4 linked regions of the Homo sapiens genome follow. The protein of the gene in region 4 purifies or fractionates together with the protein of the main gene of each other region. This does not show direct contact. Each region holds a gene or a part of one and is shown on either strand. Other genes may lie near its edges.

What was found. Proteins that work in one complex are often made in the same cells at the same time.
Region 1: the proteins of POLR1B (region 4) and RPRD2 purify together in Homo sapiens (affinity purification with mass spectrometry, with the first as the bait; one large-scale study listed by BioGRID). This does not show direct contact.
Region 2: the proteins of POLR1B (region 4) and TSR1 fractionate together in Homo sapiens (co-fractionation; 2 studies listed by BioGRID). This does not show direct contact.
Region 3: the proteins of POLR1B (region 4) and EEFSEC fractionate together in Homo sapiens (co-fractionation; one large-scale study listed by BioGRID). This does not show direct contact.

Annotation. Positions count from the first base shown.
Region 1 is NC_000001.11:150,465,147-150,468,646, forward strand, and holds part of RPRD2 (regulation of nuclear pre-mRNA domain-containing protein 2), read left to right. Parts: intron 1-3,500.
Region 2 is NC_000017.11:2,324,177-2,326,457, forward strand, and holds part of TSR1 (pre-rRNA-processing protein TSR1 homolog), read right to left. Parts: intron 1,245-2,281; coding exon 1,128-1,244; intron 1,089-1,127; exon of another isoform or gene 654-1,088; coding exon 513-653; exon of another isoform or gene 403-512; coding exon 328-402; exon of another isoform or gene 199-327; coding exon 20-198; 3' UTR 1-19. UniProt on the Homo sapiens protein: Required during maturation of the 40S ribosomal subunit in the nucleolus.
Region 3 is NC_000003.12:128,341,981-128,345,480, reverse strand, and holds part of EEFSEC (selenocysteine-specific elongation factor), read right to left. Parts: intron 1-3,500. UniProt on the Homo sapiens protein: Translation factor required for the incorporation of the rare amino acid selenocysteine encoded by UGA codons. Replaces the eRF1-eRF3-GTP ternary complex for the insertion of selenocysteine directed by the UGA codon.
Region 4 is NC_000002.12:112,566,465-112,569,964, forward strand, and holds part of POLR1B (DNA-directed RNA polymerase I subunit RPA2), read left to right. Parts: intron 1-293; coding exon of another isoform or gene 294-431; intron 432-1,502; coding exon 1,503-1,673; intron 1,674-2,281; coding exon 2,282-2,438; intron 2,439-3,500. UniProt on the Homo sapiens protein: Catalytic core component of RNA polymerase I (Pol I), a DNA-dependent RNA polymerase which synthesizes ribosomal RNA precursors using the four ribonucleoside triphosphates as substrates.

The DNA.
Region 1 (3,500 bases), on a different chromosome or scaffold from region 4:
CATTATCCTTTTTTTTATTTTAGACAGAATTTCACTCTTGTCGCCCAGGCTGGAGTGCAGTGGCCCAATCTCAGCTCACTGCAACCTCAGCCTCCCAAGTAGCTAGGATTACAGGTGCCCACCACCACATCCAGCTAATTTTTGTATTTTTAGTAGAGACGGAGTTTTGCTATGTTGGCCAGGCTGGTCTCGAACTCCTGACCTCAGGCAGTCCACCCACCTCAGCCTCCCAAAGTGCTAGGATTACAGGCGTGAGCCACTGCGCCCCTCCTATTTTTTTTATATTTATCATCTATGAGCTGACATCTGAAGAATTATAAAATGTGAAAGCTGAAAGAGACTAAGTATTATCTAGTCTAATCCCTTACTTTTCAGGTAAGGAAACTAAGGCTCAGTAAGGTGAAAAGATCTGCTTATGGTCACATACCTATCTGTCTATTCAGTATGAGCCAAGACTGAAGGCCAGATTTCTTGACTGGAGTTCAGTATTCTTTCACCTACACCATGACACCCTAGGGGCTGCATTAGTCCCAGCTTTTAATACAGGTTTATATATGTTGAGTTTTATTAATTTCAGTGTTAACCAAAGCTGAAGACAGTAGGAAGGGTCCATTTATTATCAAAAAATATGGCCAGGTGCAGTTGCTCACGCCTGTAATCCCGGCACTTTGGGAGGCTGAGGCGGGCAGATCACCTAAGGTCAGCAGTTCAAGACCAGCCTGGCCAACCAGGTGAAATAACATCTCTACTAAAAATATGAAAATTAGCCAGGTGTGGTGACACACACCTGTAGTGTGCTGAGATCGCAGTAAGCCGGAATCACGCTACTGCACTCCAGCCTGGACGACAGAGCAAGACTCAGTCCAAAAAAAAAAAAAAAAAAAAAAATTTTTTTATGACGCTTCAAGAACATAGTGAAACCCTGTCTCTACAACGGAATTAAAAATTAGCGCCGGGCGCGGTGGCTCACGCCTGTAATCCCAGCACTTTGGGAGGCTGAGGCAGGCGGATCATGAGTTCAGGAGATCGATACCATCCTGGCTAACACAGTGAAACCCCGACTCTACTAAAAATACAAAAAATTAGCCGGGCGTGGTGGCGGGCACCTGTAGTCTTGGCTACTTGGAAGGCTGAGGCAGGAGAATGGTGTGAACCCAGGAGGTGGAGGTTGCAGTGAGCCAAGATTGCCCCACTACACTCCAGCCTGGGCAAAAGAGCAAGACTCTGTCTCAAAAAAAAAAAAAAAAAAAAAATTAGCTGGGCATAGTGGTGCATGCCTGTAGTTCCAGCTACTCAGGGGGCTAAGGCAGGAGGATCACTTGAGCCCAGGAGTTCAAGGCTGCAGTACGCTGTGGTCACCCCACTGTACTCCAACCTAAGTGATGAGACCCTGCCTCAAAAAAAAAAAAAAAAAAATTTCTGAGACATGAATATATCTTTTTTTGTCCTAATGTTTTATAGAGGCTTCATTATTTATTATTTTATTTATTATTTTATTAGAGTCTTAGATGTAGTATTTTTGTTTTCACCTACCTATAATCTCTCTCATTTGACCCTTTCTGTTCAGCTTTACTAATTATGTTTTGTGCATGACACTGCCTGTTTCTAACCTTTTTTCATAAATCTTTCCTACTCTCTACTCTCTTATGCTCCAGATACCAATGAAATCCTTTTTAAGTACCGTAGTATAATTATGAAATGAATTACAAATACCAGGGCAATATATTCAGTGTAGTGATTTACTCTATATCAGTAGTCTCAACCAAAGGCCTCCAGGGAGGACACTTGGCAATATTTGGAGACCTTTTTAGTTGTCTCAACTGGGGTAATGGTAGGGGTGCTACTGCCTCTAGTGAGTAGAGGCCAGGAGGATGCTCCTAAATATCCTACAATGTGTGAGACAGCCCCAACAATAAAGAATTATCTAGCCCAAAGTGTCAGTAGTGCTGAGGTTGAGAAACCCTGCTCTCTATCAAAGGAGTGGTGTAAAACAGTTTCCTAAACTGTTATGTAAGTGGATCATTCAAGCATATTATAGTGAACTTTGTCTGGAGGTGCAGAAGAATTTTGTTACACAGAACTAAATAGTATTAAGTAATAATCCACAGCCCCTATCTATTGGCATCAGCAATAAAGAATTGATGATGACTGCAGCACATGTTGTACTACTAATATCAGGGACAATTTGAGAGTTTGACATGTTTATGCTTTCTCCCTTTTTATTTTTATTTGTTTGTTTGTTTTTGAGACGGGGACTTGCTCTGTTGCCCAGGCTGGAGTGCAGTGGTGTGATCTCGGCTCACTGCAACCTCTGCCTCTCGGGTTCAAGTGATTCTCTTGCCTCAGCCTCTCGAGTAGCTGGTATTACAGGCTCACACCACCATGCCCGGCTAATTTTTGTATTTTTAGTAGACACGGGGTTTCGCCATGTTGGCCAGGCTGGTCTCGAACTCCTGACCTCACGTGATCCACCTGCCTCGACCTCCCAAAGTGCTGGGATTACAGGTGTGAACCACCGTGCCTGGCCGATGTGAAATTTCTGATGAGGCAAAATTTGAACAGAACTAGGTTCCTTATGGAATGTGGAATTCTCTTTGACTTTTAAAAGGATTGTATCTAGCAAGTTAAATAGATGTATTTCCTCGAAGACTGTTAATGAAATCCCAGAACTTTGTTCTGATTGTGTCATCCACAGCCCTAGGTATTGACAGATTTATAACACAAAAGAGAGACTTCAGGCCCGGTGTGGTGGGTCACACCTGTAATTCCAGCACTTTGGGGACGGGTGGATCACCTGAGGTCAGGAGTTCAAGACCAGCCTGGCCAACAGGGTAAACCTGTCTTTCCAAAAAAAAATACAAAAAAATTAGCTGGGCGTGGTGGCTCACAGCTGTAACCCCAACTACTTGGGAGGCTGAGGTAGGAGAATCGCTTGAACCCGGAAGGCAGAGGTTGCAGTGAGCCAGCCTGGGCGACGAGCAAAACTCTGTCTCAAAAAAAGAGAAACTTCAGTGGGCAAAGGAGCAGAGTATGACTTGTTATGATTAAAGAGCAAACTTTTGGCTGGGCGCAGTGGCTCATGCCTGTAATCCTAACACTTTGGGAGGCCACGATGGGAGGATCACTTGAGGCCAGGAGTTTGAGACCAGCCTGGTCAATATAGCAAAACCCCTATCTCTATTGTTTTTAAGAATTTTTAAAAATAATTAAAAAAAAAAAAGATTGGAGAACAGTAATATTTAGTGGTGAGAGACAATTTTACCTATTACCAGAAATCTGAGTAGTATATCTATCTTAAAAAGATGTTCTTTTGAAGAAGTTATCCCAAAATATCTGAAAAATATGCTGAAATATCTTCTAAAAATCATATTACATTATTATATATCACATTCTAGTGTTTGAGGACTTCTGGGTTTTGTGAGAACAGTGATTACTAAGAATTAAATCAGGCTGGGCATGGTGGCTCACGCCTGTAATCTCAGCACTTTGGGAGGCTGAAG
Region 2 (2,281 bases), on a different chromosome or scaffold from region 4:
CAGAATCTCTTTGAATCCATTACTCCATGCCCCCTTGAGGCACTGTTGAAGAAATCTCACTTTTCAGCCAGGGTACTGGTTCTGGTACATATGGATCATAAGTCCATTTGGGGAAGACTCGTTTATACAGGTTCATCAGTACTGTGTCTTGAGATTTTAGCTTCCCATCAAAGCTGCATTTCATGTGGCCATGGGTACCTAGAAAGACATCAGAACAAGTCGGTCAAATTAAAAGTAGAAAATTTTAAAGCAATGACTTCCAACCCAACAGTCATTTAGCAACACTGCAGAAATGCAGACATGGTCTCAAATCCCGTGTTTCCTTACCTAAAGGTTCCTTGATATGTCCTCTCCGGCCCCACTTCGTTCTCAGTTCCACTGGTTTAAACCACAGCACATCCTCTTAGAATCAAACACATTAAAGACCAAGATGAAACATTTACCCACAAAATGTAAACCCAACCTTTATACCACAAAGGCAATCAGATCCCATCCTCCTCCTTCATACCCACCTCTGTTGAAGAACATGTAACGTACTACTGCCATCTTAGTAAAAATTTTGAAAGGATGACCACTCAGAACAACTCTCTTGATGACCATTCTGTCTGGATCTACTGACATAAGATGGCCTGTAGCAATGAGGCTGTGCATTCCTAAAGGACAAAAGCAAAGAAGCTATTTAGGAATTTACAGGCCAAAGTCTTCATTTATTGCCCAGTCCATTTAAAGACCCATGCAAGAGCCTGGTTTGTCATCCCTGCCCTAGCCCAATCTGAGGCTAAGATTGGTAAACTGTAAGCCCACACTTAACCTTGTCAATAGGTTCTTGAAAACTTGTACTTCAAGAGAAATGATGTATAACAAAACCATACTTTTTCTCATCAGTTGTTACAAGGAAAGGATGTTGAACAAAAGGCAGTTATTTGAGGACTGGCTATACACTGTTTCACGTAAAAGTTGGAGTTTTCATTGTTCTATTAACAATGTTAAATGAAGACTTACTGTATTTTGAAAACCATCATTACCTTCTCCATACCATTTGGCTCCCAAATTTAAATAAACAAGAGAAAACGGTGTTCATCTATTAAGGACCTGCAGGGTCTGTTCATCTCTGTGGCTCAACTTACCATTGCTTTTTTGCTTGAAAAGCAGCACAGATGCAGGAGGAAAAGTGATTGGCGCATAGACTGTCGCCACCAGGGCCATGTCAGCAGTCAGGAATCTCTGCAATTTATGTTTGTCCGCTGCCATAAGGGTTAAAAAATGAAAAGCAAAACCATTTTGAGAAACCAGAGGTGATAGAGGCCTGTGAAAAGCTGTATTAGTGCAACTCTTAAACCTATGGCAGCTTCTACTTCTCTAAACCACCAGTTCTCAAAAATTTTCGCTGCCTCAATGCACCTAAAAGATACGATCTAGTCCTATCAGTAACTTTTTTTTTTTCTTTTTTTTTGAGTTTGAGTATCGTTCCTGTCACCCAGGCTGGAATGCAATGGTGTGATCTCAGCTGACTGCAACCTCTGCCTCCCGGGTTCAAGCAGTTCTCCTGCCTCAGCCTCCTGAGTAGCTGGGATTACAGGCACATGCCACCACGCCCGGCTAATTTTTGTATTTTTAGTAGAGACCGGGTTTCACCATGTTGGCCAGGCTGGTCTCGAACTCCTCACCTTGTGATCCACCCACCTCAATCTCCCAAAGTGCTGGGATTACAGGCGTGAGCCACCGCGCCAGGCTGTATCAGTAACTTTTTATTTATTTATTTATTTTGAGATGGTGTCTCGCTCTTGTTGCCCAGGCTGGAGTACAATGGTGCCATCTCTGCTCACTGCAACCTCCACCTCCCAGGTTCAAGTGATTCTTCTGCCTCAGGCTCCCGAATAGCTGGAATTGCAGGTGCCTGATCAGTAACTTTTTTATCTGGAGTCAGAATCTTGGAGCCTAGACTGTATTTGATGTTCTACCTTCAAGGTAGCCCTCACCTCCTTTTTAAAATACTAAACTTAAAGGAAAATAAAATATTTTAAGGCAAAGAAAAATTAATCTCACTTAGAGATTGTGATTCTCACAATTGGTGAGAATAAAAATTATCCAAAACACCATTAATACTGCTTTCTTCATATTCCTCCTGCCACTGCTGAGAGTGAGTGAACTAGGACGATGTTCAGAAGCCCCCAAGTTAGTGGGCAACATATCTTCCTGCTCCTACTGTGTAGGAGACAATCATTTCTGCTGCAAGTCCCGTCCAGTAGTCTCTCAGTATCTCAGGACCCCTACCTCTGCT
Region 3 (3,500 bases), on a different chromosome or scaffold from region 4:
GCACGGTGGGGAAAGAAGAGCATAGGGCACTTCTCTGGCCCCTGCGCTGGATAACCACACCCATGAGCCTACCAGACTCTCAGCCCCTCCCTCTTCAACCAAAACTGTGTGGCTCCTGATAGGGACCAGGGGGATTGGCTCCTGTGCTTCAAAGAGAAATAATGGAGTCCCAGGGAAAAGAGTGGACCCACGCTCCAGGCATTATTATTTTGACTCTAAGAGCTTAAACATTAATAATGATAAAACAATAACGATGCAGTAGGAGACAAGCACTGATCTCAGAACCTTATGTGCAATCCCCCATCTCACCTTCATCTAACCCTGGTGCAGCACTGTGAAAATTCCCACTTAACATGGAAGTCTCATGGTCTGCTCAACTTTTCACACTAGCAGGTGGTAAGGCTGGGAGTAAATAAAGCCCAGGCTTGCACATTGGACCAGTCTGTCGGATGGCTGAGCCCCTGGTCAAGCAAGATGACCTGAAAATCTCTGGGTGATCTGGGGCCTACTCAAAGCAAACAGGGCTGCCCCTTTGGAACAAACTCAGCCAATCACTCAGGAGCTGCAACAGGAACACTACCTTCTTGCTTCACCTGATGAGAGTCGGCTCTTACATATGAAGCCACAAGCTATGGTGGCTCTTTCAAAACAACCTGATGAGGTCAAGACCATCCTTCGAAGGAATGAACAATTGAGATTAAATGGCTGCCCAAGGCGTACAGCTGTTTTGGGTACAGCAAGGGCTTGAGCCTACTCTGTATGATCTCCAAGTTCCACCTTACCAGGAAGGAAAGTCTCCCACCAAGGAGATTCGAGCTTTTCAAGAGAACGCAGACTCTTTTGACACACTGGGCAAGAATCTGTCTGACAAAGTGGAAATTTCATGACTCAAAAGAGACCAGCTAGTCCTGAGTTCAAACTCCAGCTTTACTACCCTGTGACCTTGGGCAGGTCACTTCACATTTCTTGGGCTGGTTTCCAGTCTGGCTGCCTTTGGGGAGGGGACCTGGGTTCGTAGGAAGAAAACTTCCTTACACTGAATAATTATTGTCTTGTTTGAAATTTTTTACCATGTGCATATATTACTTTTCCTAAATATTTGCACATAATTTGATTGATTTAATTGGGGAAAAATGTACATAGGAAAAATAATGACCTCTTCCTCAGGGTTATTAAACGGTTTCAAAATAAAGTATGTAGCTAGTAAAGGCGCATAGTATATGCTTAATCAGTAGAGTGGTGACAGAGTGGAGGGAGGCAGGAGGCAGGCTCATTCCTGCCCTGGGGCCCAGAGGAGAGCATGTGGCACAGAAGCCCCAGCCTACAGCCAGCCCCTAGCATTAAGGCAGGTGCCCATTCAGCTAGAGCCTCAGGGGGTTGCGAGTTGGGGGAGCTGCTCCTAGCCTGGGCACCCATGCCCTTTCCTCCCTTGTGGAGCCTCAGGAAGGCCTTCTTCCTCGACCAAAGCCCTGGGCTCATAGGATCTCACCTCTGCACACATCCACAGTCACCCTGTGAGGCTGTCCCTGGTTGGAGGAAGCCTGTCTCTGCTCAGGGTTGTCTATATGGGATTTGGACTCAGCTTCTGTGGACTGCCTACAGTTCTTGTGCTTCCACTTCCAGCCTCCCTGGACTGAGCAGGAAAATGCTGGTGGCCCCAGGTTGGTGGAAGGACATAGGCCAGGCATGTCTCCTGGCCCCTCCCTCAGCCCTTCGGAGGCATGAGTCATTGAGGCCATATGTTTACTTGCTCCTCACAGACCCTCCCTCCCAGTTCTCAAAGGAAGTGACTGCTGCACCGCTGTTGACAGGCCTGAGTGGGAGCAATTAGACCCAGGAGCCACACCAATTGGGATATTACTCTCTCATAGATATTTTACTATAGAATAATTATACTCCAAACACTGCTAATAAATCAGGCTAGACAAACGAGTGACACACACTTTATCACCTTCATCTTCAATCAGCATCTTGGGGCTGGCCTAAGGCTGATGGAGCCCTGAGCAGGCCCCAGCGGCCCCCCCGGAGCTAAGGGTCCAAGCTCTGGGTCTGAGGAAGGGAGAGGAAGGGGTTGCTCCTCAGTCCCCCACTTGAGGGCAGGTCTAGGTACAGGGGCAGGAAAAGAAGAGGGCCAGGGTGGAGCACCCAGGAAGAACCTAAGACAAGGAGAAAGGGAGGGGAAGGGGCTGCAGTGACAGAGAATTCCAGACGAGAAAACCAGTGGATTTTCTCCCAGAGGAGAAAACCTGTGGACGGAGACCTGGAGCGGAGGGTGGGCGATGGAAGCCCACCACATGTGACACCGTGGATGGGCCAGATGTTGTGCTGGCACCTGCACTAAACCCAGGGGACCTCATCAGGCTCCTGTGAGGAACTGAGGCCCTTGTTGAAAGCCTCAGGGCAGACCCCTCCTGCTAGGAGCCTGAGCCCCCGACAGTGGGGTTGCCAGCACTCCGTGCTCTTTAAGCCAGTCAAAGCCCAGTCATGTCCCAGTACAGCTGCTGCTGATCCGCTTGGACCCACAGCCAGGGAGCTAGCCTTCTAGAAGAGACGGCAAGGTTTGGCTGTCCATCCATCCTGCCTTCAAGGCCCGATGGGCATGGATTCCCACTCAGCACTGTGTGGACAGCTGCTGGGGATGGATGCCCCATGGGAGGAGGTGATTCCACTACTTTGGGGGAGACCACCGTGTTCTGTCCACCCTAGTGGCAGGCCCATCCCACCCAGCACTGGGCCCAGGTGCTGATGCACCACAGGACCAGCCGAGGGAGGCCCAGGGCCCAGTCAGAGTCTCCTGGGACAGAGCAGGCACCACCCTGAAAGCACAAGGCCAAGGGCCGCCCAGCAAGGCACAGCCAGGGCCTCATCCTACTTCAACTAGACTGGCTCACCTACATGCCTAAGGCCTGCATCTAGCGATGGTGAACTTCAGGCACCCTAGGTAGCCAGGGGCTGGACCTCCCACTGTGTCAGCTTCCTGTACCTTCCTTCCTCTTGCTCTCTGGCACCCTTAGCCCCTTCCCCTCAGTCCACAGGTGAGGAAAGACCTGGCCACCATTAGCCCCTTCCCCTCAGTCCACAGGTGAGGAAAGACCTGGCCTGGCACCACTGATGGGCAGTGTTTCCCTCTGGACATAAGCAGCTTGCAGGGGCACATGGGCAGATCCCAGCTGGATGGAGGTACAGTGCCCACCAAGGTCAAGAGAGTGGGGCCTGATCAGGGCAGCAGGCCAGGGAAGCCAGTGCTAACCGCTGCCATCTGACACTGGCTGTGGGGGAGCCCAGACCTGCTCAGACCCATGGGTGCCACATCTACCATGTAAATAAGTGGGGGTGGGATAGCTGGGTGGGATTGGGTACAGTGGGGGTCCCCCTGCCCAGGTGCTGGCCCTGGCTCTGTGACTGACCAGCTGAGAGAACTGTGGCCACCTGACCATTCTGGGCATCAGATGCCTTGTACAGAAACTACAGAGGTTGGCACCAGAAGGTCTCTGAGGGCC
Region 4 (3,500 bases):
TTTTCTATGTTTATTAGTTGCTATTCTGTAAGGGAGGGCTTTCTTTTCTATTAGTTGTTCATTTATTTATGTTAGCGTAGATTTATAGATGCTTGTTTAATTTTGTGAATATTCTGTTACTACTTATTTTGATGCTCAGAAAGTGTATGAGATTTGATCTAGTGTACAGTTGAGGGTTTTAAGTACATTCATGTTGTGGAGTCATCACCATCTTCAGAACTTTCTCATCATCACAAATTGAAACTCTGTAACCATTAAACAATCATTCCTCTTTTTTTTTTTTTTTGAGGCAGAGTCTCGCTCTGTCGCCCAGGCTGCAGTGCAGTGGTGTGATCTTGGCTCACTGCAGCCTCCGCCTCCCATGTTCAAGCAATTCTCCTGCCTCGGTCTCCCAAGTAGCTGGGATTACAGGTGCACACCACCATGCCTGGGTAATTTTTATATTTTTAGTAGAGATGGGGTTTCTCCATGTTGCCCCGGCTGGTCTCGAACTCCTGACCTCAAATGAGCTACCTGCCTCATTAGTCTCAGATTTTATCTTTTTTATAGAGAATTTATTTTCATTCTCTTTTTTTTGGTTAGCATTGTGGAGCATCGGAGGATGAGGACACTTAAGATCTGCTCTCTTAGTAAATTTCAAGCATGCAATATAGTATTCTTAACTATAGTCACATGCTGTACATGAGATCTCCAGAAACTTAATTTTGTTGCATAACTGAAGCTTTATACTCTTTGACCAACATCTCCCCGTGTCCCCCTCCACCAAACATTCTCTCATTTTTAATGATAATGCATCTAGCTGTGAATCCCCATGAGTTCTGACACATGGGTTTGTTGTTGTTGTTGTTGTTGTTGTTGTTTTCAGGTTTCTGTAATTTAGGTTTTTATTTCTCCTTTCACCCAGGAGTTTGTTGGAGTTTTTTTGTTTTGTTTTTGAGACAGGGTCACTCTGTCACCCAGGCTGGAGTGCAGTGGCATGATCATGGCTCACTGCAGCCTCAACCTCCTGGGCTCAAGTGATCCTCCCACCTCAGCCTCCCGATTAGCTGGGACTACAGGCACGTACCACCACACTCAGGTAATTTTTTAATTTTTGTAGAGACGGGGTTTCATCATGTTGCCCAGGCTGGTCTTGAACCTCTGGGCTCAAGTGATCCACCCACTTTGGCCTCCTAAAGTGCTGGGATTACAGGTATAAGCCACCCCCGGCCCACCCATGAGTTTTTGGTTTATTAAATTTACAAATAAAACCAGTAATCTACTGTATTTTAGATCACAGAGGACAGAATTTCCTTTAGTGTATCGACACGTGCATTCATGGTGTGCTTTATCCTTAGCCTCAGTAGTTAGTGATTTGCCTACTAGCTGGGGTGAGCACCCAAGGAAGTAGGGCTTTTACCATGGCTGAGTGTGGATGAGTGGTATTCCATGGGGCATAAGACTGGCAGCGACAGCCATGGCCTTGGGACAGGTTTGTTAAACTCTGTTTTTGTTAAAAACAGGTGTTGAGAGAGAAAAGAATTCCTCCCTGGATGGAAGTGGTCCTTATACCCATGACAGGAAAACCAAGTCTGTACCCAGGATTGTTCCTTTTTACCACTCCTTGTAGACTGGTACGGCCTGTGCAGAACTTAGCATTGGGCAAAGAAGAGCTAATTGGAACTATGGAACAGGTAAATACATATGTGTGATGGATGAGTGTATGTGCTTGTTTGTATAGTATACAACTTTCAGAGACTTAACTCTTCCTTTTTTAAAAGGGTTGTTAATGTTACAACAACAGTTGGACATTTGAAAGAAAGTCAGACTTTCCACCTCCTCTATGATCAGCACAGAGCAATTTCCATGTCTGATCTCACTCCACAGAACCTGAGAGAGGGCTGGTGGTCACATTACCTGCCTCCCATCTTATCTAGCTCCCAGAACTCCTTTGTACCTGGCTCTGCCTCAGCCGTGAAGTGAAAACATTCCATTAGATTCACACTCAGTCTTTGCCTACATATTTACAGTTGCAAAATTATAGGCTTTGTGCTACTTAAAAATTTTTCTTCCTATTCCCCTTCACAATTGGTCTGGGGTAGTTTTAGAGTGAGATACGTAAAGCAAGTGGTATTTCTAACTGGTCGCTTCCCTGTGCTTCCCAGTTGATCCCTTCAGCACTCATGATGCTGGGTGGGGATGGTTTTCTCTTGAGTCTTTGAGTACTGAACTCTGAGAAATGGTAAGAGTAAATGTGTAACCAGTTGCAGTTATTTTGTGCCTTGGACATCTGCTCTTCCAGATCTTCATGAATGTCGCTATCTTTGAGGATGAAGTTTTTGCTGGAGTTACCACACACCAGGAACTCTTTCCACACAGCCTGCTGAGTGTGATTGCCAACTTCATCCCTTTCTCTGATCACAACCAGAGTCCACGGAACATGTACCAATGCCAGATGGGTAAGGAAGAGGGATGATGTTACAGTCACAATCAGGAAAGTAAACTTGATACTAGCACACTCTTTTATTGTCCTTATTTACATATGCTGACCATTTGTTCCAAAAATACAGTTTATGGCAAGTTTTTCTTTTTTCTGTGCCACAAGCAACCAGCCCAGGATCACTCATTGTATTTAGTTGGCATGTCTATTTAGTTTCCTGTAATTTATGACAGATCTTTAAACATTCTTTGTCTTTGACATTGACATTTTTGAAGAAAAAGGTATAGAATGTCCATAGATTTGGGTGTGCCTGAGGTCTTATTATTTGATTTTTTGAAGAATACAAGCAATTATAGTCACCCGCATATTTATCACTTCCAGTCCTCTTCATTCCTGCTGCAAGATTCAAGTTTTCATTGTATACAATTTTCCTTCAGCCTGATAATCTTCCTTTAGCATTTTTTTATAGTGCAGGTTGCTGGCCACAAATTCTCTTTGTTTTCATTTATCTGAAAATGTCTTTATTTTGCTTCACTTGAAGGAATCTTTCACTGGATATACAATTCTGAGTTGACAGTTATTTTTCTTCCAACACTTAAAAGTTGTTGTTACACTGTCTCTTCTTAGTCTCTGTCATTTCTAGTTAGAAGGCAGCAGTCTTCTGAATATAGTGTGTTTCTTTTTTTTTTTTTTTGAGACAGAGTCTCGCTCTGTCGCCTAGGCTGGAGTGCAGTGGTGTGATCTCGGCTTACTGCAACCTCTGTCTCCTGGGTTCAAGTGATTCTCCTGCTTCAGCCTTCCAAGTAGCTGGGTCTACAGGGACTCACCACCACACCCAGCTAATTTTTGTATTTTTAGTAGAGACGGGGTTTCACCATGTTGGCAAGGCTGGTCTCGAACTCCTGACCTCAGGTGACCTGCCCACTTTGGCCTCCCAAAGTGCTGTATTACAGGCGTGAGCCACTGCGCCCGGCCTCAAATTTTGTTTTTTTTCAGTTTAATTAAATTGCTAAACTCTTCTGTCATTATTTTTAAAAACATTGCTCCTATCCTTTTCTCTCTTTCCTCCTCTTCTATCAGT